2 separate regions of the Homo sapiens genome follow, and region 1 is linked to region 2. Evidence: fine-mapped expression QTL. A gene starts in region 2. The other region holds a variant in brackets. All regions are shown on one strand. Distances are from middle to middle.

The links.
Region 1: its variant is fine-mapped to the expression of MDH1B in thyroid (GTEx, PIP 0.98).

Annotation. Positions count from the first base shown.
Region 1 is chr2:206,732,969-206,748,402 of GRCh38, reverse strand. MDH1B (malate dehydrogenase 1B) reads left to right here. Exons shown (of 12, transcript NM_001039845.3): 8 at 1,977-2,116; 9 at 2,730-2,781; 10 at 7,299-7,349; 11 at 8,742-8,810; 12 at 9,892-10,640. The coding sequence ends at 9,920. Among named protein-coding and RNA genes, the nearest start is that of DYTN, 22 kb to the right of the region's middle. The variant G/A (reference allele first, on the strand shown) is at 7,873.
Region 2 is chr2:206,754,289-206,769,722 of GRCh38, reverse strand. It overlaps MDH1B (malate dehydrogenase 1B), which reads left to right and starts at 4,395. Exons shown (of 12, transcript NM_001039845.3): 1 at 4,395-4,473; 2 at 8,710-8,822; 3 at 12,352-12,486; 4 at 12,683-12,825; 5 at 14,218-14,714. The coding sequence starts at 4,452. FASTKD2 (FAST kinase domains 2) reads right to left here and starts at 4,117. Exons shown (of 12, transcript NM_001136193.2): 1 at 3,976-4,117; 2 at 2,253-3,079. The coding sequence starts at 3,029. RefSeq lists enhancers at 1-24, 3,847-4,226, 4,477-4,616.

The sequences.
Region 1 (15,434 bases), 21 kb after region 2:
TTCTACATTTTTGTTTGTTTGCTTGAGATGGAGTCTTGCTGTGACGCTCAGGCTGGGGTGCAATGGCACCATCTCAGCTCACTGCAACCCCCTCCTTCTGGGTTCAAGTGATTCTCCTGCCCCAGCCTCCCGAGTAGCTGGGACCACAGGCGCATGCCACTATGCCCAGCTAATTTTTGTATTTTTAGTAGAGATGGGGTTTCACCATGTTGGCCAGAATGGTCTCGATCTCCTGACCTTGTGATCTACCTGCCTTGGCCTCCCAAAGTGCTGGGGTTACAGGCCTGAGCCACCACGCCCGGCTGACTTCTACCATTTTTACAAAACAGGAAAGAGAATAGCTGCTGTTCTGTCATCTGTAAGGTCTATCTGAAGCATCTCTTCCCTTTGGGTTCTACTTTCTCCCTTAGCAAGCTAATTCACTCCCAGAGCTGCAGACCTGGACCTCTCTGCCGAGCTCTAGCTTCTGAAACATTGTCACCTGGATGTCATGTCATCACTTCCATCCAACATATACCAGACTGAATGTACTGTCATCCTTCCCAATTGGTTCCATCTCTTGTATTCTTTATGTTATAAGTAGAACCACCATCTTCCCTATTGTTTCAGTGACGCCAGTACAGGTTAAGGAAATCTCCCCAAATCCCCCATGTCAGAATTAATCTCTGTCTCTCCTCCGTATCCCCACATAGCATTTTGTTCGCCTATCACGGAGAATATTATAGTGTGCCTGTTTTTGATAGTATGATTAGTTGCATTGTCCCCTTCCTTGTGGCACCCTGAGGGCAAAGGCTTTTTCTGGGCCACCTCTTTGCTTCTTCACAGGAGAAGCATTTTATATGGTAGACACTCAATCAATCTTGTTCAATTGAAGTTAAGGTGCATGAACATTGCCATAATGTGAATTCAGATCAGCAAATTATCTCCTTAGGGAAATAGGCACTTAAAACCTTACCTTTATTTGTAGAAAGAAAGTTTAATTAATCTCTGTAGGAATTGTATTCAAAAATAAACAATGCAGTACTTGGGGGAGGAGGGTAAATGATCATTATCTGTCTCTCTGAAACCATACCAAATAGGTAAACCCTCAGACCTTGTCTGCCCATAAGGCTAGCTCTTCACAGATTAAACAAAATACAGCATTACTTGAGGACCTGGGAAGCCCTCTAAGGAAAAGTCTTTTAGATCTTGGTTTCTCGAATGTCCTCAATGTTTTGTTGTTGTTGTTGTTGTTGTTTGTTTTTTTGCCCTGGTGATATTTTTGTTGTCTAGTATGGCAGAAATAATTTTCTTATGTGATCGAGGCACCAGAAACGGGGACAATTTTGTCTGAATGGTGCTCAGTTAGTAATAAATATGGTCAATCTTTTTATTTAGAGCACATCCAAATATAAGTATTTCTGTATATCTTAAAGAAATTAAATGTGTTATTAAATGAAGGATGGCTTCTGCTTAAGACATAGAAATATGTAAAGGAAATCATCCCCCATGAAGCAAACGCACACCAAAACACATGGCAAACTGGGGGCTGCAAAGGAATAACCAAATTTCCTGCCTCCCCTCCTTTCCCTTCCCAATTCTTCATACTCTGGCTGTGTGAGTGCTGTAGCAGGTGAGAAGAGTGGAAGGCCAGATGGACAAATGACTTAGGCTCATGGGCTGCATAGGGGTCCAGGGAAAAGCCATGCAGACAGACAAAAAGAATACAGACAGGGTTCAAAAGAGAAAGACTGCATTAGCCTCTGGATGTCAGATAAATACAGATGGCAGAATTGTTAGAACTTGGATAGTCGCTCAGTCAATCCTTCTAGAGGGAGTGTTTCAGTCCTCTTTGGAGAAGAATTCCGAGAAATTTAATTCCATCATTATCATTAAAAATCCTATACTATGTCTGTCATTTTCTACAATGCTTAACAGAAAAGGTGCATGTTTCTAAGTTCTGCTGCATTGCTTTGCTTTGTGTTTGCTCACTGCAGGCCAGTTTGGTATTCCGAAAGGGATCGTCTTTTCTATGCCTGTGAAATTTGAGAATGGAACTTGGGTGGTTCTTACAGATCTCAAAGATGTTGAAATAAGTGAACAAATAATGACCCGAATGACAAGTGATCTAATTCAGGTAATGTCAGAATAGATGCAAGGGGACTGACCTTGATAATGACCTTAAACTGATTCTCCTAGGCCAAGGCATACATTGGTTTTTCTATGGATTCAAATTTTTTTTTAATTCTTAAAAATAATGAGATAATAAAAGTTTGAAAAAAATCAGTGAAGGAACACTACTCATTTAGTTATACAATTTCTGGTATGTTAAAAATATTTGTTCGTTATTTAAAAATGAAGAATCAAGGTGTTTTTCTATTAAAGAATAGTTAAGTTGCCGGGTGCAGTGGCTCATGCCTGTAATACTTTGGGAGGTCGAGGTGGGTGGATCACCTGAGGTCGGGAGTTTGCGACCAGCCTGACCAACATGGAGAAACCCTGTCTCTATTAAAAATAGAAAAATTAGCTGGGCATGGTGGCACATGCCTATAATCCCAGCTACTCGGGAGGCTGAGGCAGGAGAATCGCTTGAACCAAGAAGGGAGAGGTTGTGGTGAGCTGAGATTGCGCCACTGCACTCCAGCCTGGGCAACAAGAGTGAAACTCTGTCTCAAAAAAAAAAAAAAAAAAAAGAAGAATTAAGTTAGGAATTGTGGTCATTTAATTCTGTGATTATAAAATTTCAACAGGAGAAACTTGTTGCACTTGGAGACAAGATACATTTTCAGCCATACCAATCAGGTAAGCTCTTAGACGTGATGTTTTATTGGACTGCTATTAAAAGAGTATTAAAATATTTGTTATAACTGAATCACTGTTAATATGAATAACTCTCATTTATATTTTGTCATTTCTAAACTAATGACAAAATAAACTGTTAAGTTCAATGTGTCCTTTGAAATAAAACATCTCATAAGAATGTTAAAGAAAACACAACTTATGAACACTATGATCTTATAAATGTTGTAGGTAACATATTTATTAATTTCCTAGGACTACCATAACAAATTACCACAAAGTGGATGGCTTAAAAACAACAGAAATTTACTTGTTCACAGCTCAGGAGACTAGAAGACCTGATGTGAGGTATCAGCAGGGCCACACTCTCTCTGAAGGCTTGAGAAAGAATTCCTTCTTGCTTTTTCTAGCTTTGGGTTGCACTGCTTGCATTCCTGGCTTGTTGCTGCATCACTCCAACCTGTGCTTCCCTCTTCACATGTCCATCTTTCCTCTGTGTGTGTCTGTGTTTCTAAGTCTCTCTTTCTCTCTAAGGATACCAGTCATTGCATTCAAGACCTGCCCTAAACCAGTCTGAACCCATCTTAAATTGATTATATCCACCAAGACTCCATTTCCCATAAGATCACATTCATAGGTACCAGGCGTTAGGACTTCAACATATATATATATATTTTATTTATTTATTTATTTATTTATTTAGACAGAGTCTTGCTCTGTTGCCCAGACTGAAGTGCAGTGGTGCCATCTCGGCTCACCACAAGCCCCGCCTCCCAGGTACGAGCGATTCTCCTGTCTCAGCCTCCTGATTAGCTGGAACTACAGGTGCACACCACCATGCCTGGCTAATTTTTGTATTTTTAGTAGAGACGAGGTTTCACTATGTTGGCCGGGCTGGTCTCAAACTGCTGACCTCGTGATCCACCCACCTCAGCCTCCCAAAGTGATGAGATTACAGGCATGAGCCACCATGCCTGGCCAACTTCAGCATATCTTTTTGGAAACACAATTCAACTCACAACACCAGATTTATTTTTAGATAACTTTATTAAAAGCCAACAAATTTCAAGAAGCTTATTTTTCTTATTGGTATTTTCTCCACTCATAAGAAATAGGGGAGGGCTGACATCTTTTCTTTGCCTTAAAGATGATCTCATCTTAGGTATGGATATATACATGTAGAAATAAATCAATTTATTTATGCAAAGGGCTTTAGTCAAGTGTCTTTTGGAGCCCAATATTCCTTCCTTCTGCTAATGTGTGTGCAGTACCAACTATAAGCCAGTGCTAGGAGCTGGAAATACAGAGGTGAATGAGATAGACCTGATCTTGCCCTCTGGGAACCTGCAGTCCATCAAGAGGCTGGCCACACATTATATAGATGACTGCAACTGTGGTGCGTGGGAGGAGTAAATGTTGGCTGCTGTGCTGTCAGAGCTCATGCCTGCGGATAGAAGGGAAGAATCTGAAGCAGGAAAGTACATATCAACTTGTTTGGAAAAACTGTGGAAAAGCTCATGTGGCCAAAGCCAGAAGAGATGGAGCTGAGAGATACAGCCATGAGGAGTAGATGTGAGAGCTACAGAAGATTTCTAGATGGAGAGAACCTGGTCAGTTGTGGGATTAGTTTGAAAAACATCCTGGAATAAGGCAAGGCTGTTTGCAGAAAGACTGGTATTGAGGGGGAGTGCATACAGCCAAGACCAGAGGCAGTAGAAATTTGAGAGATATTTAGGATGTGGAAATATCAAGAATTGCTGATGAATCTGATTGGCTTTGGTGAATCCCAGGGTTCTTCTGGCTGAACAACTGGGCAGATTTACTATTGATAAGGGGAAAATGGTAAAAGAATGAGAGAGAGAGAGAAAATATGAGAATGTGGGAGGGGTGTGTGTGTGCATGCACGCCTGTGGATGGAAGAGGAAGAAGCATGGTGCCAGATTAGAAAAAGCATGAGTTTCATTTCTTACATTTTGATTCTGAAATACCTGTGTGATATCTAAAATGGAAATGTCACATGGAGAACTGCATACTTCCTGGAGCTCAGAAAGATCTGGACTACAGTTGCCAAATGGGGAGTTGTTGCCTCATAAATAGAAATGAAGCTATCAGTATGGTGGAGATTGTCTAGAGAGAAGGTAAGAGAAAAAAGCCTGGAGGAACTTAGCCTGTCATGGTTAAGTAGAACAGGAGCAACTGACAGAGGACCATGAGAAAGGGGTGGTCAGAGAGTCAGGATAAGTCCCTGGAATCTGATGATGTAAAAGACCTGAAGGCAGAGGGTGTTTCAAGAACAAGGACTGTTCTACACTGTCAGATGCTACTGGTGTGTCAGATAAAATGATACCTGAAAAATACCCAATGGATGTATGACAAAGGTCATTTGTGACTTTAATGAGAGCAATTTTGTGCAATGGAGAGGGCAGAAATGAGACCAGAGTAGAAAGCTTCCTGAGCTGCAACATTAAACGCCAAGTCCCTACTTAGTAGGCCCAAGTCAATAAATTCAGCCTGATCCAACTCTGTGTTCCTTCAACTATTATCCCATACCCTTAATATCCATTCCCATACCTGTTCTCCAGATTTCTGTTTATATAAATTAGAGACATCGGCTGGGCGTGGTGGCTCACACCTGTAATCCCAGCACTTTGGGAGGCCGAGGTGGGCAGATCACAAAGTCAGGAGATCGAGACCATCCTGGCTAACATGGTGAAACCCTGTCTCTACTAAAAATACAAAAACAAAATTAGCCAGGCATGGTGGCAGGCACCTGTAGTCCCAGCTACTTGGGAGGCTGAGGCAGGAGAATGACGTGAACCCAGGAGGTGGAGCTTGAGCTGAGATTGCACCACTGCACTCCAGCCTGGATGACAGAATGAGACTCTGTCTCAAAAAAAAAAAAAAAAAAAAAAATAGAGACATCAAGCAGCTCTTTTTGAGTGTAGCACACTTCTTCATGGGTCATACTCTCAACCTCACCTCTAGAGGCCCACCAAGACTTTAGTCTAGTTATAGGTCTAGAAGCAAACAAGGGTGTTAGGGGTGGCTACTGAGGAGAATCAACATTTTCCCTGGCAACTGCCTCAGGGGAGGCCGTCACTCTTGCCTCAGGCAGCACAGGGTTTATCTCCTCAGACAAAGGTGGAAAGGCTGATGACAGCATGGGTCAGGGAGGGGATGTTGCCACTACTGGGTATGGGGAAGCTGTTCCATCTGGCAAAAAAGGTTCATCAGAGTTTACAAACTCAGTGTCCCCAGCTTCATCAGGGTTCTCCCACACGTCTCCATTCCAAGTTGCAGCATCCCATTCTTTTCCAATTAATGCCCTCACTTTAACAGGAGACACCTGGCAAGGCTGTGCATACACTTTTCGTTGCAGTTCAACCACTCACATAATAAGAGCTTGTGTCTGTTTTTCCACAATTTCAGCTCTTTCTCTACAGGAGATAAGACTCACTCAGGGCAATCTTTGCAGATTTGAGGCTCAGTATCTGCCAGGAGACAGAATCTCTGAGTTCATCATTTTCTTTCATCACTTTGTCCACTGAACTTAGGAGCAGCTAACCAGCTTCATTATGTTCCTTTGTTCACCACATATGGTCAAAGGTATTATGTATAGAGTCACTAAACTCCCTGCCTCTCATGGGCAGTGAATCAGGAGTGTCAAATTCATTTATTTTGCATAACTCATTAAACAGTTCATGCCAAGGACTATCAGTGTTCTCCATACTATTAAAAGTAGAGTCCTTAGGTCCTTAGCATTTGGAGGTCGAATCATACTAAGCAGCCAACTCCAGAAACCCGAAAACCAACAAAAGAACTCCATCCTTAATATTTTGTTTCTCTAGAACCACTCCTGGTACCAAAATCTGTATAGTCAAGGTTCCGTAGAGGGACAGAACTAATAGGATACTTATGTATAAATAAAGGGGAATTTATTGAGTATTAAGTTACACAATCACAGGGTCCCACAATGGGCTGTCTGCAAGCTTGAGGAGCAAGGAGAGCCAGTCTGAGTCTCAAAATTGAAAAACTTGGAGTCCAATGTTTGAGGGCAGGAAGCATCCAGCATGGGAGAAAAATGTAGGCTAGGAGGCTAGGCAATTCTCACCTTTTCACATTTTTCTTCCTGCTTTATATTTGCTGGCAGCTGATTAGATTGTGCCCACCAGATTAAGGGTGGGTCTGTCTTCCCCAGCCCACTGACTCAAATGTTAATTTCCTTTGGCAACACCCTCACAGACACACCCAGGATCAATACTTTGCATCCTTCAATCCAATCAAGTTGGCACTCGGTATTAACCATCACAATTAGAAAAAGATAAGTATTATTTCATGTATTTTTTTGTTTCATTAATATGTACACAAATGTACACATTGGACTATAATGTAAAATGTGTCTTTTATTGTGGGTCATAGTCACTGAAGTTTGAAAAACATTGACTCAGAACATCTCATGACCTAGTTAGGTTGTTGGTTATATTCTAAATCCAGCATGTTTTATTTAATTTTGATTTCAGGACATAAAGATCTGGTCCCTGATGAAGAAAAAAATCTAGCTATGTCAGATGGTAAGTCAGTGGGGTTATAAACAATGTCTATATTGCTAATAGTCGTGACTCATATTGTCCAGTTGTTAGAGAATAATGTTATGGTCTAGCGACCAAAGCAAGTTTTAAATAACTGCTTCTTTTCATATGCTTCACAAACACTTTGAAATGGGCATAAAAATGTCAACTTTTTTTTAAAAAGCACTAAAACTGCTTCCTTGTCATATTCACCTCAAACTCTCCCAAAATACTCTAACTTCAGCTCCAGTCCCTTGTATCTCTTGCTTCTCACCTTTCCCTTTTCTTCTCAATTCTCTATTATGAAGCCCAAAATAACCAATAGGGCAAGATAGCATCTTCCTCAGAACACAGGTGAGAGGAAAAGACCGAGAGAACCAAGTTAGAATTCTCCTTAACAGGGAAAATCTGGGATTTTTTGTCTCATTATGTGTATATATATCTCATCATATATATAATTTATAATGTATTACATAAATACACACACATATGCTGTTGACCCTTGAACAGCATGGGTTTGAACTGT[G/A]CAGGTCCACTTATGCAGATTTTCTTCCACCTCTGCCATCCCTAAGACAGCAAGACCAATGCCTCCTCTTCCTCCTGCTCCTCCCCAGCCTAGTCAACATAAAGAAAATGAGGATAAAGAACCTTATGATGATCCATTTCCACTTAATGAATAGTAAATATATTTTCTCTTCCTTATGATTTTCTTAATAACATTTTCTTTTCTCTAGCTCACTTTATTGTTAGAATGCAGTATGTGATACATATAACATACAAAATATATGTTAATCAACTGTTATTGGCAAGACTTCTGGTCAACAGTGGGCTATTAGTTAAGTTTTGGGGGAGTCAAAAGTTACGTGTAGATTACTGATCACACAGAGGAATGGTGTCCGTAACCTCCACATTGTTCAGGGGTCAACTGTATACATATAATGTGAGTGCTTGCAAATATTTATGTAGAGAATTGTATTTTTTCTAAAGCTGCCTATACAAACCATATATCAAAAAAATAATAATTTAGTCTGTTTCCATTTTTATGGCTTCATCTGAAACTATCTATTTAGAAGGAAGCTAGCAATCATTGAGAAGTTGCCCAGTGGTTTATGGGGGCCAGGGAAGGAGGCTTCATAGGGATGTTGGTAGAAAGATGCTATACTGAGCAGTTGACTGAACATCTGCTTGTTCATATTGTCCACTCAGGACATAGATAAGTCATCATCAATGGTTGAGACTTTATATAACAGTGGTCTAGCATCTTGTAACTCCTAGGAGAGCAATGCATTCAGAGAAACCTCAGAGTGGAAGGAACAAGATAGAAGAAAATGGAAATAACTGCAAAAATTATTGCGCTTTACATACTAAAAACTATTCTTTTAACTCTATTTGCAGCAGCAGAGTTTCCAAATCAGATTCCTCAAACCACCTTTGAAAAGCCACAGAGTCTTGAGTTCCTAAATGGTAGGTGGTAGACAAAACATTAACTAGTATTTTCTTATTCTACAAGTGGAACTGGGTAATAGAGGATCAAATTTCCTTGCAATACTATTCTTGTCAAACCCTCCCCACTTCCCACATTCCCCAGGGACCCAGCCTTGGTTGCTTACTCTCCTGGATCCCAGCGTCCCACTTTTTTTTTTTAAGACAAGGTCTGCTCTGTTGCCCAGGCTGAAGTGCAGTGGTGCGGTTACAGCTCACTGCAACCTCAGCCTCCTAGATTTGTGCCCCTCCCAACTCAGCCCCTGAAGTAGCTGGGACCACAGGCATGCATCACCACTCCCAACTAATTTTTAATTTTTTTTGTAGATCTAGGGTCTCACAATGTTTCCCAGGCTGGTCTCAAACTCCTGGGCCCAAGTGACCATCCACTTTGGCCTTCCAAAGTGCTAGAATTACAGGCGTGAGCCACCGTGCCTGGCCTGCTTCCCACTTTTGCAACCAAATCCTTAAATCCTTCATTAAATCCTTCCCTCAAGATGAATAAGTAAGGAAATTGACACAAGTAATCTGCATGTCCAGATTTCCCAAGTATATAACTGAGTTGAAAACAAAGCTGACGTAGATTTCTTTGTGGTTGACCAATCAGGATATTCACCCAAGCCCCCACCCTTTTATTTAAATGTCCAATAAAATGAACAAAATTTCATGCACCTTTCATTCTGAAATGTATGGTATGATGGACTTAGGAATGGGGCTAATCAGGGGGAATTAGAATTGGTACATAGAGGAGCAGCAAAGTCGAGCAGAAATGGAGCTGACAACATAGCTGCATACATAATTTGGAATGAAAAGCAAGGTGACAGGAGAGAGCACATAAAAATAGCTTGTGGCCAGGGAAGAGGCCACAATTAGTTTTGCTATATGAAAATACCTAACTATGATCTCATGGCTTTATTTCCCCATAGAATCACTCTCACACATGCACTTTCTCAGCTATTGAATCATGAATACAGGAATCCAGCAAACAAAAAAGCTAATAATAACATATGCTACTAACATATTTTGGAAATAGTTATGTCTTTTCATTCTTTTCCTTTTACAGAATTTGAAGGCAAAACCGTGGAATCCTAACAGATCAAATTGGATGAAATATATAATTACTTGATAGCACAATAAACATAGAAAGAATTTATATGAATGTCTATATTTAAGGAAGAATAATTTGAAAGATTTATGTCAGTCTTAGATAATACCATGCAAGGCAATTAAATCACTGTGACAGCACAGAGGTCAGAGTTCCGTCATTTTGCATTACTTGTATCCACTCATGTTTGTTTCATAATAATTGCATTTTCTTAGAACTATTTTGGTGTCAAATGCTATTTTTTATATTACATTAAAATAGAGTTGTCAGTCATTGCATCTGCCCATACATCTTCTGAGAGAACCTGCTTCCTTCCATCAGCCATACCTAAGACCTGCACCTAAGTGGCCATGTTTGCTCAAATGTCCTCATCACCTTGGCCTCAACTAATTAGGCCAAACAGATGTACTTCACTCAAGGAGAACCAATCATATTTTCTCTCTGTCTCTCAAAAAAAAATTGAACTGAGACCAGTGAGTAAGTTGGTGTCTGGGTCAGGTTAATGGTGGTGAACTATGTGCCTGTGAGCTCTTCAGAGCTGGTTGGGTTCACCACCTTCATAAGACCTGCCTCTGTACCATTTTTCCTTGAGTGTGCTTTGTATAAAGGTCTGTACAATAAATCACACTTTTTTAAAGCTTAGATTGAATAGGTTTCTGCTCCTTGACAAGAGATATGGCCTGAATAAAATGAATTTTGAAAGAAAAGCCTAATATTTTTACTATATAATTGCATGGTTTAAGTAAAAATTACAGTCTTTTATTAAAGCAGTAATAGCCAAACCAGTATGCTGAGATATTTTCCAGCTAATAAGGCCCTTTACCAATGCCAATTAGGAACTTTTGAAAGCCCAGGAGTCATGTGAAGAACTGCTGATATCTGTGCTTTCTCTGTATGTTTAATAGCTCTTAAGATACAAATCACTTTCTGAAAATTCAGGGAAATTGTAGCTGCATCTTCTGCATTGCTTCTGCACCATCATAATGCAATGGGTAATTTCAAACCCATGACTGACTTCTGCTTGTTTCCAAAGTCAGCACTTCATTTGATGTTATTGTGAAGAAAGCTTAATATCCGTGTTAAGGACATTGATTTTGTGCCCTAATCCTACCAATACCATTGCCTGACCTTGTAGGGTCCTCAACCCAAGGAATGTGACCACAGAGAACAAGAGCTGGATGGGAAATCAAATGGTGCTTTACGCAGAGCTGGGCACATGGCGATTGCTCCTCAACATACAGGGCTTCTTATGATAAAACTAAGCGAGATTAGAAACTGTGATTCAGACCAAGAAGCCCAAGCTAAATTTCCCGCTCCATACCCCTTGAATCAGTTATGTGACTCACTTATTACCCATAACCAGATAGAAAAGCTAGACCAAAGAACACAACCACGAACACATCACCTTTCAAAGTAGTGGCCCTGCCCCTTAGTGATTTTCTTCCCATGAGTGTCAAGTTGTGAACAATGAGATAATAAGCTTCTTCTCCAATTGGTGGACAACTAGGAAAGGGCTAGAGGAGACCTAGACAGAGTTTTGTCCCCTTTTGGGACATATTAGTCCCCATCCCCAGAAGTCTCTACTTCCAGCGTGAATATGAACTGCCATATGTTTGGACCACCATAGGATGACAAGAATGCTCTAGAATATACTCCTATAGAAGAATAGAATGGATTGATTTTAGTCACCATATCTACTACCACACATTTGTCCCAAACTAATATATGGAATTACACTGGGAGGAAAGTGTTAAGTGTTTGCTATTTATTTAGAAATAATTACGATGCCACTTCAAAAGTATTTTTCAGGGTGATGTGGTTTGGCTTTCTGTCCCTACCCAAATTTCATCTTGTAGCTCCCATAATTCCCACGTGTTGTGGGAGGGACCCAGTGGGAGATAACTGAAACATGGGGGTGGGTCTTTTCCATGCTGTTCTCACAATAGTGAACAAGTCTCACAAGATCTGATGGCTTTAAAAATGGGAGTTTGCCTGCACAACCTCTCTCTTTGCTTGCCGCCATCCACATAAGATGTGACTTGTTCCTCCTTGCCATCCACCATGATTGAGAGGCCTCCCCACCCTGTGGAACTGTGAGTCCATTAAACCTCTTTCTTTTGTAAATTGCCCAGCCTCGGGTATGTCTTTATCAGCAGCATGAAAATGGACTAATACACAGGGAGTTTTTTTTTTTTCTTTATTTTTTCGACTGATGCACTGGTTCTCATGGTAGCCTGTTATATATAATAGACCAACTTGGGAAATCTCAAGTCTGATTTCCCCATTAAAAGTAACTTTAATGTGAGGTTATTATAAATAGTTTCTCTATGTTGTTAAAGCTATCATGGTAAAGCCATGAGAGAGGAATATTCTGTAGAAAAATTAGAGTATTGTTTGGAGAAAGGCATTATGTGTATAAAGTAATTAATTGGTCACTGGAATATGAGTTAAGTGTCTATAAATCTTTGTAACTATAGCAAGCACTATTAGTTGCCCTCCCTACAGCCCTGCTTAATTCTCATGACCAACAGAACTCTGATTTTGTTGGGATGGTTGATGGGCCCAATAAATAGTGAGATACCTAATTTAGTCCCATTTGCCAGTGATTGGCCTAGGGGTAGGCATACAGCCCATTTTGGACACTGATAGATAAGTCTTCTGGAGGCCTGCATGAGACAGAGAGAATAAATGGTATGTAAGGAGAAAGCACTTTGGCTCCCACCTACTTCCTTCCTGCTTAAAATGCTGTCCTACTGGGATGTAATGCTCACAGCTTCAGCAACCATTTTGTAGCCATGAGAAGAGACATCACCAGCATAGGAGGGTAGCAGTAAAGAAAGACAGAAAAAGCATGGTGCCTAATCCTGAGGGCTTGATGGCTTCAAAGAGCCTCTGAACCAACCCTGGATCAACTCCAGAATTTCTGTCTAATAAACAATAAATAACTCTATGTTTTAAGTGCATGTTATTGATGGGTTCTATTACTTATAGACAATGGCTGCATACTTAAATATGTGGCTATATATACTTATAGCTAACAGCTATTTAACTTACTAGAGAAATATCTTTCAATTTTTCATTTTAAGGGAATTAATAAGAAATATATTTAGATCATTTGTTTTTTAGAGACAAGTTCTCGCTCTGTACCCAGCCCAGAGTGAAGAGGCACAATTATGGCTCAGTACAACCTAGAATTCCTGGGCTCAAGCGATCTTCCCACCTCAGCCTCTCAAATAGCTGGGACTACAGGAACATGCCACCACACCCAGCTAATTTTTAATTTCATTTTTATTTTTGTAGAGATGGGGTCTTGCTATGTTACCCAGGCTGGTCTTGAACTTCTGGACTCAAGTGATCCTCCTGCTTCAGCCTCCTGAGTAGCTGGGACTACAAGCATGAACAACCACACTCAGCCCCTAGACAAACTGACTTTTCCGACTCAGCTAGGCTCAAAATCTGTACTGACTGTTATATTTGTTTTATCTTCCCTAAATCCAGTCAGTAAATGCCACCAACTTACTTCAATTCCAGACCATGATTTTTGACATTAGCATGAATCAGAATCACTTGTTAAAATAGATTGCTGAGGGCCAGGCATGGTGGCTTATGCCTGTTATCCCAGCTCCTTGGGAGGCTGAGGTGGGCAGATCACTTGAAGTCAGGAGTTTGAGACCAGCCTGGCCAACATGGTGAAACTCCCTCTCCACTAAAAATACAAAAATTAGCCAGGCATGGTGGCACCTGCCTGTGGTCCCAGCTACTCCAGAGGCTGAGGCTGGAGAATAGCTTGAACCCGGGAAGCAGAGGCTACAGTGAGCCAAGATCGTGCCACTGCACTGTAGCCTGGATGACAGAGCAAGACTCTGTCTCAAAAAAAAAAAAAAAAAAAAGAAAACCAACAAAAAAAAAAATTGCTGGGGACTATCTCCAGAGTTTGTGACTCAGTAAATCTTAGGTAGGGCCTGAGAATTTGCATTTCTAACAAGTTCCCAGGTGATGCTGATGCTACTGATCTGGGGACCATACTTTGACAACCACTGCCCTACACTATGTCCTCAAACTTCATCTCACTGAAGCCTTGATAGATCTTACACAGTGATGTGGCCTTTCCTCTCTTGGCGAACCATTACTTATTTCTTTTTATTTCAGGGAGATGAACATTATGAGACTCCAAGAGACAGAAATAGGATAAAGAGCTATTCCTCCATCTACACACTACCAGATGCAACTGTGAAGTAATGTGTAACTTCCATTTGCTCCTTTGCTGGCCTTAAAACTAACATCTTTAACTCTAAAATGGTCCTGGCTCAGAGCTGAAAGCTTACTCGGTCTGCAGAGGACACAGAAAGGTCACCCAAGCTTGTAGCTGAGTTTCTGGAAGCAAACTGGTGACTCTCCCAACAGTGAGCAGCTGTTCTACCCCTCATATTAATTTCTTCTGGGCAGAAAAAGTGAGCCCACAGAGCTATCTAATCACAAGTCTCTCAGTTTATTGGTACAAAGAAGCATGATTTCTAAACAAAGAGGCCATAGCAAAGGTTTTGCAGAGTCCTGGCAGTCTCCTCCTTTGTAGGTGTGCTACCCATCTCTGGGAAAGCAGCCACAAACCCTAGTGTGTCTTGCTCAAGATCAACACACATAAGTCATACTTAAACAATGCCATTAAAATTAAGTTTTCATCTATGGCCCCTAAAATTACCACCATGTTTGCAAAATCCCATGATAAGCCCTCAGTCCTCATGCTGACTTGACCTATCAGTAGCATTTGACATATGTCTTAGTCCCTTCGTGCTGCTATAACAAAGTACCATTGACCAGTAGCTTAGAAGCAACAGAGATTTATTTATCACCATTCTGGGAATTCTTGATTATTTATCACCATTCTTGATCTGAGACTTGGAAGTCCAAGATCAAGGTGCCAGCAGATTCAGTGTTAGGTAAGAACATATTTCTTGGTTCATAGACAGCACCTTTTCACTGTGTCTCCACATGGTGGAAGGGGCTAGGCAGCTCTCAGATGCATCTTTTATAAGGACACTAATCCTATTCATGAGGCCTCTACCCTCATGACCTAATCACCTCCCAAAGGCCCCACCTCCTAAAGCCTGCTATGGTTTGGACGTTCATCCCAACTAAACCTTATGTTAAAATTTGGTCCTAATGTTGGATGTGGAGCCTAATAAGTGTTGGGGTCATAGGGGTGGATCCCTCATGAATAGATTAATGCCCTCCCTTGGGGTGAGTGAGTTCTCTTGCTCTTAGTTCCTGCAAGAGCTGATTGTTGAAAATTGTCTGGCACCTCCCCGCCTCTCTTGCTTCCTCTCTCACCATGTGATCTTTACATATGCCAGTCCCCTTTTGCCTTCCACCATGAGTAGAAGCTGCCTGGGGCCCTCACCAGATGTCCAATCTTGAACCTTCCAGCCAGCAGAATTGTGAGCCAAATAAACCTCTTTTCTTTATAAACTACCTAGCCTCAGGTATTCCTTTATAGCAACACA
Region 2 (15,434 bases):
AAGAACTACTGAAGTACAGAAGGTAACTAGCCCATCTCTAAAGATCCTTAAATGGTTGTGCCTTTACAATTTCCCTAGATCCTTTCCTGGGTATCAAGCTGAAACTTTACTTGTGAGTCTTCTGATTCACATCTCCTGCCACATTCTACCACTGCTATCTGGGTCTCAAGGGAAGCCTACACCCCACAGATTCTTCTTTCAGGTCCCTTTACTTAGGGTACTAAGTTTGATTCCAGAAATAGTGGGCATAATCTGGAAAGTGAATAGTAACAACACAGCTTAACTAGCAGTACTCTACAGTTTAATCACTAGTCTATAAACCTCACAAAAAATCACATCTGAGGAAACTTAGCCTGAAGAGAGAGAAGCTCTTTTGCTAAAATTACATAACCAATGAATCACAAAGTCTTAAGTCAGAACCAGGTAATAATAAGAAATGGTTATGGTTAGAAGAAAAAAAAGGTTTCTTTCCTATGAAAGGGTTTCCTTAACAATTTTACAGCATTCCATCCATATCTACTATGAAAGAAAAGACCACTTGTCTATGTGTTTGAAGGGCAAATTCATTGATGGCACACTGTCCTTTCACCTCTAAAATGTCTTTACATTATTCCAACAGGTCAGTGAGACACCATCATCCATACAGATGTTTTGACTACAAAAATCTACTACTCATACCTCACCAACACAGATGTCATCCCGATGCAAATATCTGTCCAAAATCTAGTAAGAGCATCACTGACCAGGTAAGGTGATTTATTAGTCACTTTTAAATAACTACATAGGAACTAATACACAGCCTACAAATAAACAGGGATATTCTGTGGTTTAAACAAATACACACACATACACTAAATAAAAATTAGTTATTCCTTAAGGACATATGGAAATCACAGTAATGTAAAAAGTTAAAAACTTTCCCATAGCTATGAACCCAATTATTGAATTCTATAGCAAGACAGGATATATGCCAGATTATCCCCAAGGAATTCCTGTCTTTTAAAAAATTATTATTATTATTTTCAGACAGGGTCTGGCTCTGTCACCCAGGCTGGAGTGCAGTGGCACGATCATGGCTCACGGCAGCTTCGACCTCCCAGGCTCAAGTGATATTCCCACCTCAGCCTCCCAAGTAGCTGGGACCACAGGCAAGTACATCACACCCAGCTAATTTTTGTATTTTTTGTAGAGATGGAGTCTCCCTTTGTTGCCCAGGCTGGTCGCAAACTCCTGGGCTCAAGAGATCCTCCTGCCTTGGCCTCCCAAAGTGCTGGGATTACAGGTGTGAGCCACCACACCTGGCTAAGAAATTACTTCATTATCACTGAGTTTATACGTCAGAAGTGTACACTCTTAAAACATAAATGATTAACAAGCTAATCCTTCCTTCCTTACATTTGGCACCATTTCAGTGACATTAAACAGGACACTGACATTCTTGCTTTAGACTAAAAATGGCTCCCTCCATCCAATTTTAACCTTCTTCCAATACATCTTCCACTCATTCAGTGATCTAAAATACAAATTTGAGCACGTCAACCCATTGCTTAAAATTCTTCAACGGATTCCCATTGCCTACAGGATAAATGCATACTCCTTAGCTAGCCGTAAGAGGCTCTTTATGATTTGGTTCCTATTTTTCTGGCCTCTTGTTCTGCCCCTAAGCCTCTTGCCCCTCACTCCTCTCCTTTGATCGCCATGTACAAAACTTGTTCCCACCCACTCAAACATACAACTCCATCATTCTGTGCTTCAGCTACACCAAACTACTTTCAGCTCTTCAAATTTGCCAAACTTTTCCTCTGGGAACAGTAGGGCATGCAATCCTCTCTACTTGAAACACCATCCCCTTCACTATCATTCTGCTCATCAGTTTAGGTATCATCTACTGGGCCTGAATTCCAATTCTACCATGGACTAAATTCTCTTCCTTCCCCTTCCCTTCTCTCCTTCTTCAACTACCCAGGCTTTCTTTGTATATCTTGCATCTCTCCTCACTTTAGCTTCTTCACCACTACTCAACCCTGGGGATGGTAAATGTGGAAGGCTTTCATAAATTTCCATAGCAAAAGGAAGAAAATAGCTAACTTAAGGCCTCTAAATCATATAATATATATGCAGAAATAAATATAAAGGAAACTACCATTCCATTTGATAGTCTCTTTTAAGAAGGCTACATATCTATATCCCTTCATTCTTTCAAAATATTCTAAATCAAGTAAATGCATGTTTAAATCTCCTTTTTATTTTACCTGGGTCACCCTCAGCAAAGTCTGCACCAAAATAGTGTTCTGAGGGATTCCAAGCTTCACTATGGCGTGAAGACTGAACAGTAGGTACTTATACTGCATGATCTTGGCTTCTCTCATCATATGTTCACAGAGCTGATTAAATGCAGGGTGGCTAAACATCAGTCGTTTTTCAAAGCGCTTCTGGTCATCAGACAGTCTTTTGGCAATTGTCCACATTGCTGTGAAATAGTTGCTACTAGGAAATGTGGGCGCTTTTGAAAATGCATCTAACACATCACTCAGGGAATTACATTCCTCAGACAGTTTTCTACTGCTGATACGGTTTGGTTTTGTTTCCTTGGTAAGAACATCTTCATTGGAGACTTCATGATTAAGGTTTACTTTCTTCAATTCATCATCAGATTTATCAACAGGGACAAGAGACTGCTTTGAGTCAAAAAACAGTCTTTTAGCATAAAGTAGTCTTTCAATTCTAAGGGCTGTTAGAGTGCTTATGCCCTTTGTTTGAAAGCCAACATCTGATTTAAAAATGAATGCATCCTGAAAGAGATATCTAATGATATCAGTTGATTGCATTCTGTTATGAAAGTTATTTAAAATGTTCCAGTTTGAATGAACTATTTTTGGTTTGCAAAGTCCCAAACAACATAGCCTCATAGTTCTGCTTGTTGAAACTAATGTACTGAATTGTCTAAGGTTCCAGAAAAAGGAGCCCGCTTTGTTATTCATTTTGCTCTCCACTGAAACACTTCCAAATGGCTTCAAAGTTGTCAACATGAAACCAACGTCACTTCTACTAGTGAAAAAGAACACGTGCTGTCGTTTTCCTGTAGGGGAAGAAGTAATGAAAAGAATAAAAATTAAAACAAAACTTTTACTTAAAGAAATGAAATGCATTTAACAGAAGAGAAAATGGGGAACCTATGGAGCCATTAAACATTTACATAAAACAGTAAAAGTTTTTTTTACCAATGTGGGCTCCCTCCAATCTACCACAATGTGTCCAGTTTCAAAGAAGCCAGGTCACTTTGGAAGTAGTCATTGTATTAATGAGATTTTTCTGGTGCAAAAGCGTTCCATAAAGCTTTCTCTGTAGGAGAGACTTTTGTTGGCATTGTTATGGAAATGTCCTCGGTGAAAATTAGGGGATTAGCATTGATAGATCATTTTCTTTTCTCTTCTCTGTTTTTTTTTTTTTTTTTTTTTTTTTTGAGACAAAGTCTTGCTATGTCCCCCAGGCTAGAGTGCAGTGGCGCGATCTTGGCTCACTGCAACCTCCACCTCCCAGGTTCAAGCAATTCTCCTGTCTCAGCCTCCCAAGTAGCTGGGATTACAGGCGTATGCCACCACGCCCGGCTAATTTTTGTATTTTTTGTAAAGACGGAGTTTCACCATGTTGGCCAGGCTGGTCCTGAACTCCTGACCTCAGGTAATCCACCCGCCTCGGCCTCCCAAGGCGTGAGTCACCGCGCCCGGCTGATAGATCATTTTCAACATGACGATTTAGCAACGGCCGAACCCAGACCATCAAGAATAGGGACCTGGGCAGGTAGAACGGCTCAGTGGAAGAAGCAGAAAACGAAAGCGATGTCTGCACGTGGCCTGCGCTTAAGAGGAAGATCTTATACAACCAGCCAGCCTCACCAGACCCCAGAACCAACTTCAAGAGCCTGTCCTTCCGCAGCTGGGCCGCCCAGCATTAACCCACCTCCTTTAAACTTACTTCCAGGACAACTCGTGAGACTCTTCTCCTCGAAGTAAAAAGTCTAGGATGTGATACGGGCTGCCGCTAAGCCCAAGCTCGTCCTCCACTCACCTTAGAGCACAAGACCGTGACTACGTACAGGAGCAGCCATGACAGCTTCCCCGAGAAGCTGCGCTTCTCACGAGATCTTACGGATTCCCTCAAAGGTCAAAAAGCATATGTTCGCGGCTGTAGCTGAAGGACTTACTTGAAGAAAGTTTACCAAGGAGAATGACTAATTTCCCTGCATACAGGAGTGGGGCTCGGGGATACCACAGAGCTTATAAGGGCGATGTTTGATCGTGTATCGCAACGTAACCCATTCAGGTCCTAACTTTAAACACCTAACCTCTGCTGGGCGCCAGACTTTGTAGTGCGCCTGCGCCTTGCCCTTGGCTGCGTGGTTGCCAGGAAACCGCGAAGCCGCGGTCCCTGCCTCTGAGTCTCTCTCGACCATGGCCAAATTCGTCATCGCGGGTGAGTGATCCCCGCGTCCGCCCGCAGATTGCTCAAAACGCCGACAACAGCTCACCTCCCATGGCCGCTCGGCTTGGCAGCCTCTATACGGACCGCTCCATGCTTTGCTATAGATTTATTCAAAGTTTTTTACTGGACCGTGACGGTGCGCCAAGCATTGTGGGACACTGGGGATGCAATGGAGGGAAACATATCCCTGCCTTAGAGGAGCTTTCAGTCTCATGGGGCACAGAACATGTACTTTTGATACGGTGTGATTAACGCGATGAAGGAGACCTGCACAGGCCTCTGGGAGCGTAGACTCCTAATCTGGGTTTGGGGGATGAGGGAGAGGTGGACACAAGGAACTGGCTGGGGAAGGTATTACAGGAGCTGAGTTGTGAAGGTGTGAGCTGAGGAGGCTATTCCAAATAAAAGCAGAGAGGCAGGAAGCTTCCTGGCCTAACAGAAGATCTGGATATGTGGGGCGTGACAGGACCTGGGGCTACAACAGGAGCAGGAGCCAGGTCCTTGCATTTCATGTAGGTCAAGCAAAGGTGTTTGAACTGTATCCTGAAAGCAATGAGGAATTATAGAAAAATTTTAAGCAGGAGAGTAGTCTTAATGAGTTTGCATTTTAGGAAGCCTGTCTTGGCAGCAACGGAGAGAATGATTGAAAGTGCTGGTTGACAGCAAGGACTCAACTGAGAAGGCTTTTATTACAACAATCCATGGTACCTACCTCCTCTCCTCGTAAAGTTTCTTAAAAGAGTAGACTGCTCTTCCATCTCCAGTTCTGCCTTCCAATCAGTCTTGGAAGAAGGCTTCTACTTCTGCTTCCTGACAGAAACTGCTGTCACCAAAGTCACCACTGACTTTTATAGAAGCTGTTTAGTCTTTGACTTATTTGATCTCTTTGATGCATTGAACACAATTGACATCTACCATCCACAGGAGATTTTTTTTTTTTTTTGAGACAGGCTCTCACTTTGTCACCCAGGCTGGATTGCAGTGGTGCAATCGTGGCTCACAGCAGCTTTGACCTCCTGGGCTCAAGCGATCCTCCCACCTCAGCCTCCCAAGTAGCTGGGACTACAGGCATACACCAGCATGCCCAGCTAATTTTTGTATTTTTGTAGAGATGGGGTTTTGTCATGTTGCCCACGCTGGTCTTGAACTCCTACGCTCAAGTGATTTGCCCACCTTGACCTCCCAAAGTGCCAAGATTACAGGCATGCACCACCACACCTGGCCCAGAAGAATATTTTTGAACACTGACTAACCACATGGTGGGAAGTCAGTGGAAAACACACAGAGAATGTTGCATGTATGACACTGACAGGGCAGGGTTCTATAGGAACGATAGCAGGGACCTTACTTAATCAGGTAAGGGTTTCCCAGAGGGAGAGATTTTAAGCAGATACCTGAAAGATGATAATGAATTACCTAACAGAGAAGAGGTAGAAAGGAGGGGAGCAATTTAGGCATGGGTAACTGGGAGTGGGGTTAGAGCAAGGAGAACTAGTTTGGTGACAATTGAGAATATAAAATAAGTATAAAATTGAAATAAGTTTATTAGGACTGAAGCAAATAGTACAAGGAAGAGAATTTCATAAGGTGAGGCTAGAGTTAGATAATGTAGATTCTTTTGAGCCACATTCAGTAGTTTAGACTTTATCCAGAGTACATGAAAGGTTTTTAGAAGGGGAGGAGGGCCTAATCAAATCTGAATTTTATCTGAATGTTACGGCTATAGTGTGGGACAAAAAGACTGGATACCAAGAAACCAGTTAGGAGACTAGTGCTATAGTCCAGGAGGGAGTTGATTGTGACCTGGCCTAGAGTGGCAAACAATGGAGATGGAGAGAAGTGAATGGATTGGAGAGATATTAGGGAGGCAGAATCTATAGAACTGGATGTCTAATTGACTGGAGGAGGGCAGATAAGGGAGAAAAAGGAGTTAAACATTGTTCCCAAGCAGAGGTTTGAATAATTGCAGAGATTAGGAGTCACTGAAAAAAAAAAAAAAGCGGATGAGTAGGTTTAATACTCTGGATACTCTTACTACTCTTAGATAATTAGGGAGATGGACATAATAAATATAAGCGACTAAGCACATTTAGTAGGGGAATGGTGACAAAATACATCATAGACCTTCTGAGTGTCTATGAGACATTTTGAAGGAGATGGGAAAATACAGGAGGGTGTAGGCATCTAGATAAGGAGATCTGAGCTGGAAATATAGATTGCTACTTGAAGCCAAGGGAATGAAGCAGATTGGCCAAAAAGAATATGTAAGTTATAAAGACAAGATGCTTCTCAGAATGATACCTTTTAATGGGTTGATAAAGGAATGGAAACCTACAAAGGATAGAAAGGAGTGACCATAGAATAGGAGAACTGGGAGAATGCCCCCACTATAGCAGTGTTTCAAAAGCCTGGAAGGGGGCAGTGGTGGCAAATGCTGCCAAGGGTCAACAAGAAAAGGATCGGAAAGTATCTGCTGGATTTAGTGGCATGGAAGTCTTCAGTGACCTTCAAGAGAATTGTGGGGTCTGCTACATTGCAGTGGGTGAGAAATAAATGGAAGTGAAGAACTGAGGATGGCAAATATAGGGAACTCTTTCAAGATATTTTGATCAAAAAGGACATACGAAAGGCAATAGCTAGAGGGGGAGATGAGTTTTTTGTCTCTTAGGACAGGAGAAACATAATGTAATGAGTATATTTAAATATGACAGAAAGGGACTATTAGAAACAGATACAAGACTCTAGAAAGAGAGGATAATTAACTAAGCAAGGTTCCTATGAAGGCAGATGAGGATGGGATTCAGAGCATAAGTGGTGGGATTAGATTAGACAGGAGGTAGGACTCCTCTTCCATTGAAATGAAGAAAGGAGGAAAGGATGAGTCCAAGTACAGACAGGCATGTAGATGTGATGGACGAGGTTGGAGATTTTCCAAACTAATGCCATTTTGTTTTGTTTGGGTTGGTTTTTGTAAAGTAAAAAGCAAAGTTGTCTGTTGTGTTCTGATAATGCAGAGGAATGTTGGGGAGAAGGAAAAGATTTGGAGGAAGAGGAAAAAGACTGGAATAGTAATGAGGAGAACAGAAGAGAGTGCTGATAAGGGAAACAGAGGGATCTCCACGCAGGGTTGAGGGCCAATTAAAGCTGGTGACCATGAATTTTAAAGGTGCCCTCCGCTTGGTTCTACAATGTTTCTGTAGTGGTGGCTAGCAGGTAGGACCCAGCTACAGAAAAGGCAAGTAATTGAGTTCATCCAGGATAAGGGGCTTTTATCAGGCTCATTTCCCAAAAGGATAGTGGAGAAAGATAATTTAAGACATGGACCAGAAAGTGGTTTGAAGAGATGAACCATAGATTTGAACTAGACAGGGTGGCTGATAGACAGGGGTAGCTTCAGACAGGTTGGTAACTTAGGAGTTAAGTTATCTTAACTGAGGAAGAATGCTACAGAGAGGGCTCTGCATTTTTCCCCATCCCTCCTGCTCTATCAGATGCCCAATTCCATCTGTTGTAGTGGCTTTAACTTCCTGGGTGTTGATGGCTACAAATTGTGTGTCTGAAACCCTTACATGGCACCTGCACCCCATATATATGTATACATATACATATACATGTACATATACATATACATATATATCCAGCTACTTGCTGATCATATCCACTTAGACACACTACAAGTATCTCCAACTGCACTTGACTAAAGTTAAATTTCTCATTCATGATTTTTCTCTAGTTAAGGTCAGCATCATCTGCCCAAGCCGGAAAATAGAAGTTATCCCAGATTCTTCTTTCCCACCCCCACAACTTCCTGACACACATCAAATCCAAAAGTGACTTTACCACCACTCCTCACTTCAAACTTTACCTTTTGGTGGCCATTAGTGAGTAGTTCATTATCAGTACTAATTCATGCTGAATTAGTAGTAGTTAGCAGCCTCCTAGAGGAAGTGAGGTCTAGCATATTACTAGAAAAGAATAAATATTCAGTAGGGTTTTTTTTCTTTCCACATTTTGTTACTTAAGATTCTGACCTCCTATGAAGTTTATTTTATTTGTATTAATCTAATAAACATCAGAAGTTTATGTAATAGCAGTTTATACTGCAACTTTATGTTATCAAATTATATCATAACTATGACTAATTCTGTAATTACATAGCAAATACTTAGAACTACATAATAATTTCTGCATGATGAAAGAAAACATTGCTAATTTGAACTCTTTTAGGTAGAGCAGATTGTCCATATTATGCTAAAACAGAACTTGTGGCAGACTATTTACAAAAGAATCTTCCTGATTTTCGGATACATAAAATCACACAACGTCCTGAGGTTTGGGAGGTAAGAAGCCTTTATAGTTTGTTGAACTCACTCATGCACAAAATGTGTTTTAATTTGATTAAATATTAACTGGTGTATTAGACTGGCTTCTAGGAATGACTGTTCATGTGCTAGTGATATTTGAATACTAGTAAAACAAGTCCCTACTTACCAGTCTCAAAATAATATTTATGTTTTTTCCCTAATACCTAGTAGAACAAATGAGACCCTAATCAATAAGTAGAATAAGTTTGACTGCACCCCCTGAAGAATCCAGGTAGCTTACACTGCACTTGTTAACTTTTCATTCTCCTTGGTATTGATTTCCAATGACTTATTTGGGATACCCTTCTTTGGGACTCTGTTTCCCCAGAAACAGACTTTGAGATGTAGATTTTGGTGAAGGGGCTTTACTGGGAAGTGGTCTTGGGAACAGCATCCTGAAACGGAATGAGGGTGGCAGGATTGGGTAAAGGGAGAAGTTGAAGTTTGACATAGCTGCAACAGAGGGCTCAGCGGATCCCACAGTGAACTCTTGATGGCCTTTCAGAATTATTCCAAACTGAGGCAAGGTAGCTGAGCTTTTGTGCTCCCTCCTCAACCAGCCATCGGATATCAGCTGCCCCTGGGAAGGAACTTAACCTTAGGCAAGGCAATTTGCTTTGGCTGAAGTCAATTCCTAGAGAGAGAATGGAGTCAGACTTTAAGTTATCAGCCTCTAATACACCAGGTGCCTGGGAGAGTGAGTGCCTCATTTGTGAAGGGGGAACCTGGAGTGTACATGACAGCACTGGCTACAGTTCACCTGTTGTGCCTTTTGGATCCACATGCTCCCTATAATCAGTTCACACCATCTTGGAACAGCTCCTCCAGGATTCTGGTTGCCATCTTTCCCTGGGTAAACTTGATAAGAGAAAGGATAGTCAAATGAACTATAGTCTCCACTGCTCATAGTTTCAGGGCCAAACTGACAGTCATCACCTTTTCTCTCCCTCTCTTCTCTACCATCCATTATAGATTTCCCTCACTCTCTGCTGGTCTGGTCTTCAGCTAAGTTATCTCATCTGCTGGGTTGGTAGTGCTTCTGTTACAATAAATGTTGTCTGGTTGGCACTGCCCACTGGCCTCTATTGTTTCAGGATTTTATCATCTCAATTGCCAGGGAGTTCAGGTGTGTGGCAGCATGTCCTTTAACAGCCTTGGCTACAATCATATGAAAAAATGCTCAACATTACAGGTTATTAGAGAAATGCAAATCAAAACCACAATAAGATTCCATCTCATACCCGTCAGAATGACTATTATTTAAAAGTCAAAAAATAACAGATGCTGGCGAGGTTGTGGAGAAAAAGGAACACTTATAGGCTATTGGTGGAAGCATAGAAAGATAGAAATAACATTCAACCCAAAAATCCCATTACTGTGTATATACCCCTGAAAATATAAATCATTCTTTTATAAAGACACATGCACACATATGTTCATTGCAACACTAGTCACAATAGCAAAGACATGGAATCAACCCAAATGCCTATCAATGATAGACTGGAGAAAGAAAATGTGGTACATATACATCATGAAATACTACACAGCCACGAAAAGGAATGAGATCATGTCCTTTGCAGGGACATGGATGGAGCTGGAGATCATTATCCTTAGCAAAGTAATACAGGAACAGAAAACCAAATACCACATATTCTCACTTAGAAGTGGGGGCTAAATGATAAGAACACGTGGACACAGGGAGGGAAACAACACACACTGGGGCCTATCGGAGGGTGGAGGGTGGGAGGAGGAAGAAGATCACGAGAAATAACTAACGGGCACTAGGCTGAATACCTGGGTGATGAAATAATTTGTAAAACAAACCCCCATGACACAAATTTACCTATGTAACAAAACTGCACTTGTACCCCTGAACTTAAAATAGAAGTTTAAATAAAGAAAAAAAAAAAAAACAAACAGCCTTGGCCTAGAACGGACAGCCACACTGGGCTCCTCAGTGACACCAGGACCCCTCTCACCAGTGCATTCCTTATCACTTAGGTGCATGTTGTATCCTCCAATCCCTTCCAGAGAACATGGTTGAATGGCGGGCTTTCTAGCCTTCCATAGTACCACGTTCACTAGTTTTTTTTTTGTGTGTGTGTGTTTTGAGATGGAGTTTCGCCCTTGTCGCCCAGGCTAGAGTGCAATGGTGCAATCTCGGCTCACTGCAACCTCCGCCTCCCAGGTTCAAGCAATTCTCCTGCCTCAGCCTCCTGAGTAGCTGGGATTATAGGCACCCATCACCACGCCTGGCTAAATTTTGTGTTTTTAGTAGAGATGGAGTTTCACCATGTTGACCAGGCTTGTCTCGAACTCTTGACCTCAGATGTTCCCCCCGCCTCGGCCTCCCAAAGTGCTGGGATTATAGGAGTGAGCCACCACACCTGGCATCACTAGTCTTTTGATCCATTCTTCTACCGTCTTCCATGAAGTCTGGCATTTCTATTTTATTTAATTACTCTCTCCAAGTTTCTAAGAGCCAGTCTGGCAACATGTTGTCCCTGTCTTCTGAGGTCCTTGCCAGGGTATACACTCTTGAATTGCCGAAAAGTGATTCATACTAATAAATTCTCCCTTGTCTAACTTCATGTTCCACTCTTGATTCAGCACTGTAAGGGTCCAGTCTTGTACATGCCCTTGCAGCTCCTGCTGGGACATTAACATGCTTTGCAGGGTGCAGAAGGTTTTTTGGGGTAATGTCTCTTTCCTTCATGGGCCCAGTAGTTCACTGGTCTGGCTATGCTGTGGCTAGAGGGACCGTGTTGGAATCCTCATAGCAGCATTGTTTGCTTTAAGTGAGATAAAGGCAGGCAGATCTTCAATATTAGCAAGGAAATCAGTTTCCAGGATTTTATTGGTAAGGTGGCCTCATTACCCATGCCTCCAATGACGTGGTTTTTAAGACTGCTGCCATGTACTTTGCTGATAAAAATGTTTCTGTTTGACTGTACTCAGATCTTGTCATTGGAAGGCCTAGCCTATATAAATCAGATAATGATAATTTAAATTTTTTCTGATAAATATTGTCGGAAATCTCCAAATAACTTTTAGCTTATTAATTTAGTCTGAACTACATAAACCACACTCACAGATTTTAAAAAAAGTATCAAGTTTTATATGCCCCTAAGACTGGAAATATTGCATGTGTAAAAGAATAAGGGCAAAACTAGTTGAATTTTTTTAAAAATCAGTTGAGTTGGAACATGTGACCTCTCTTTAAGCTAAACACTTGGATTCCAGGTCTCCTCAGCAAAAAGAGCAACTTTCAGTACCTTTATTTGGTCAATTAATTTGAAGAATATGCTTTCTTATCTAATTAATCTGTTACTAACATCACTATTTTCTATATTTACATTTTACTCTTTGAAGATATCTAAATTATATTATGTGTATATAGTGACATTAAAAGCAACCTAGTATTTTAATGTTTGAATTCTAAAGTATGAAATTGAATTCTCAGGCAGATTTAATATATGACTTCACTTGGGATATCATTCAACAGGATTGGCTAAAAGATGTGTGTGAAAAGAATAAGTGGAGTCACAAGAATTCCCCTATCATCTGGAGAGAGCTGTTGGATCGTGGAGGAAAGGGTTTGCTTTTGGGAGGATATAATGAGTTCCTGGAGCATGCTCAGGTATATAAGTTAACTTATCTGTTCTAATAATGATAATTCTCTTACATTATTTTATTTTTCAAATATCTTGCTTTCTGAGACATTCTCTCATGTCTCTTTTTATTGTCTTTTGACTTTAAACAAAAACTTTCCATTATAGCCAATTTCAACTAGTTATCTATTCTCTGATATTGACTTTTTCTCTCCCAATATTTAGCTTTACTATGATGTCACCTCTAGCATGACGACTGAACTGATGATGGTAATTGCTCAAGAGAACCTGGGGGCACATATAGAAAAAGAGCAGGAGGAAGAAGCCCTGAAAACTTGCATCAACCCCTTGCAGGTCTGGATCACCAGGTGGGACAGTCAAATCCCAGGATTCATGAGATTTACTTTTTATATTTAGAAAGGACAATGAGATGGGATTAATTTCATGATGGAAGAATACCTGAATGTCAGGTTTGAAATTTGTGTGTATGTATACTTATATGTATACACATATACATATGCATCTCTGTGTGTGTGTGTTTGTATCCTCCATATAACTCATAAATGAGTTTTATGTTTTATAGACACAAACACAGTCACTTGGTCTAAAAACAACTCTATAGCATGGCTGCTTTGCAGAAGCTCACCCTCTCTGACTGTTGCTCTCTCCCTCTTTCCCACGTGCTAGAGCTTTCTTTGCCTTTTCTCTATGCACCCACTCCCTCTCTGTAACCCCACTCCCCTCGCCTTGCTCCCCTTTGCTTTTCTCCTTCTCATGTGTGCTCCACTTTGCTCCCAGTCTGGGCACATGCAGTCTTTGTTGTCATACTCTCTCTCTTTCTTTCTCTGCACTGTCTCTCTGTCTCTCTTGCTCTCTCTCTCCCTCCCCTTCTCCTTTCCTCACCCCTCAGTTTGTCTTTTGCACTTTTCCTGCTCTTACGTGCATGTGTATCCTAATATATACTCATTTTTAAAATTGTTATTATGAAATATTTTAAATACAGAAAGGAATTGAGAATGATGTAATAAACATCCATGATCCTATAACCCAGATTTAATAACTATCACATCTTCTTTAGATGTTTCAAAGGATTAAATCGGTACAGATACTGTTGAAACCCCCATTATACACCTCCCCAAACCCACTGTGAATACCAGAAATGCCCGGATGCATTTCTGAACTTCCCATGGTGGGCATTACAGTTCACAGCTGATAGTCACAGCTGTAGACAACTGCAGAATTGTGGCTACAGATACACCTTACATAGCCTATGTTGATCCCACCATCTTTGTAAGGATTTTTCTGTGTAAGAATTTGGAAAAGATAGCCCTTTCCAAAAAAAAAAAAAAAGTCATTATTGTGTAGATGAGGTTGTATTTTTTAAAAAAGAGCTATGGCTAACTGAAACTTACATCTTTATCTTTTTAGGAGGAAATATAAACACATAATTACAGTAATATAATAGTTTTTTTATTTTGATTTCTGCATAGGGGGAATTCTGTTTTCTTTGAAAAACCTAATAAACAGGTATATTTCTTATTTGGGGACTGATTTCAGATGGCCAGAGCAAGGGATTGGTAGTGAGAAGTTTTTGTTCTACTTTTGACTTCTAGCCTTAGAATGTCAGGGCAGCTATGTGTGTGCTTATTTAAATATTAAACCACCCTATTGATGCACATGCAGAAATATCTATTAAGAATAAAGGCTTAAAAGGGACAAAGGATATAACTATTCACAATGCGGCTTTGCATTTTTATCAGTGCCTCTGCTCCTGCCTGCTACAACCTAATTCCCATATTGACGAGTGGCGAAGTGTTTGGGATGCATACAGAAATTAGCATAACTCTATTTGACAACAAGCAGGCGGAAGAACATCTCAAAAGCCTTGTGGTGGAGACCCAAGACCTGGCATCTCCCGTCCTGCGCAGTGTCTCCATCTGCACGAAGGTGGAGGAGGCCTTCCGCCAGGCCCACGTCATTGTGGTGCTGGATGACAGCACCAACAAGGAGGTGTTCACTCTGGAGGACTGCCTCCGAAGCAGGGTGCCTCTCTGCAGGCTCTATGGGTACCTGATAGAGAAAAATGCTCATGAGTCTGTCAGAGTCATCGTGGGAGGGAGAACCTTTGTAAACCTGAAGACAGTTTTACTCATGAGATATGCCCCACGCATTGCACACAACATTATTGCTGTGGCGCTGGGGGTGGAAGGTGAAGCGAAAGCCATACTGGCCAGAAAACTGAAGACAGCTCCTTCATGTGAGTGAATGTCTCTTTATGTTTTTGTTTTTATTTTGAAACAACATGATTTCAAAGCAGCTAGGAAGAACACTGTCCCCTCTAGGAACATTCTGAGTATCTGGAATAGGAAGTATAAAACAGACATAAAGAACTTATTGTGTGATTTGACTACTGTGCAAACATTTTTTTTTACTGGCTTTTGTGTCTGGCTTTTTCCATCATTATAAAAATCAATAAATATTTAATAAGATACAATTTATATTATTCAGGTGATAATGTGACACATCGTATTCCATTTTTCCCATGGTAATAGTCAATTAAGATAACCAGTGTTTTAAAAAAAATCAAAACTATGTGCAAGTGGCTCTGCCCTACTTCCCACCCGTATGATCTTGAGCCGTCATTTAGTCTTTCAGTGCGTCAGTTTCCTCATCTGTAAAATGAGGACGTTAACAGTGCCTATCTCCTAGAATTGATGTGGGGATTCAATGAGATGTATTCCTAAAGTGCTAAGAAGAGTGTATGGCACATAATAAACATTTCTAAGGATGTTAAACTTATCAATAGGATTATGATATCTGATCGGTTTCTGCTCCTATTAATCTTTGAATGGTAAATATCAGAATCATAGGAAGATGAGAAGATGAGACTAGATCAGAAAATGGATTGTTGTATTTGAAAAGGGAGATAATATTGGACATATTTTAGCTACTTTTGCCCTTAGATGGAGCAGGTGCA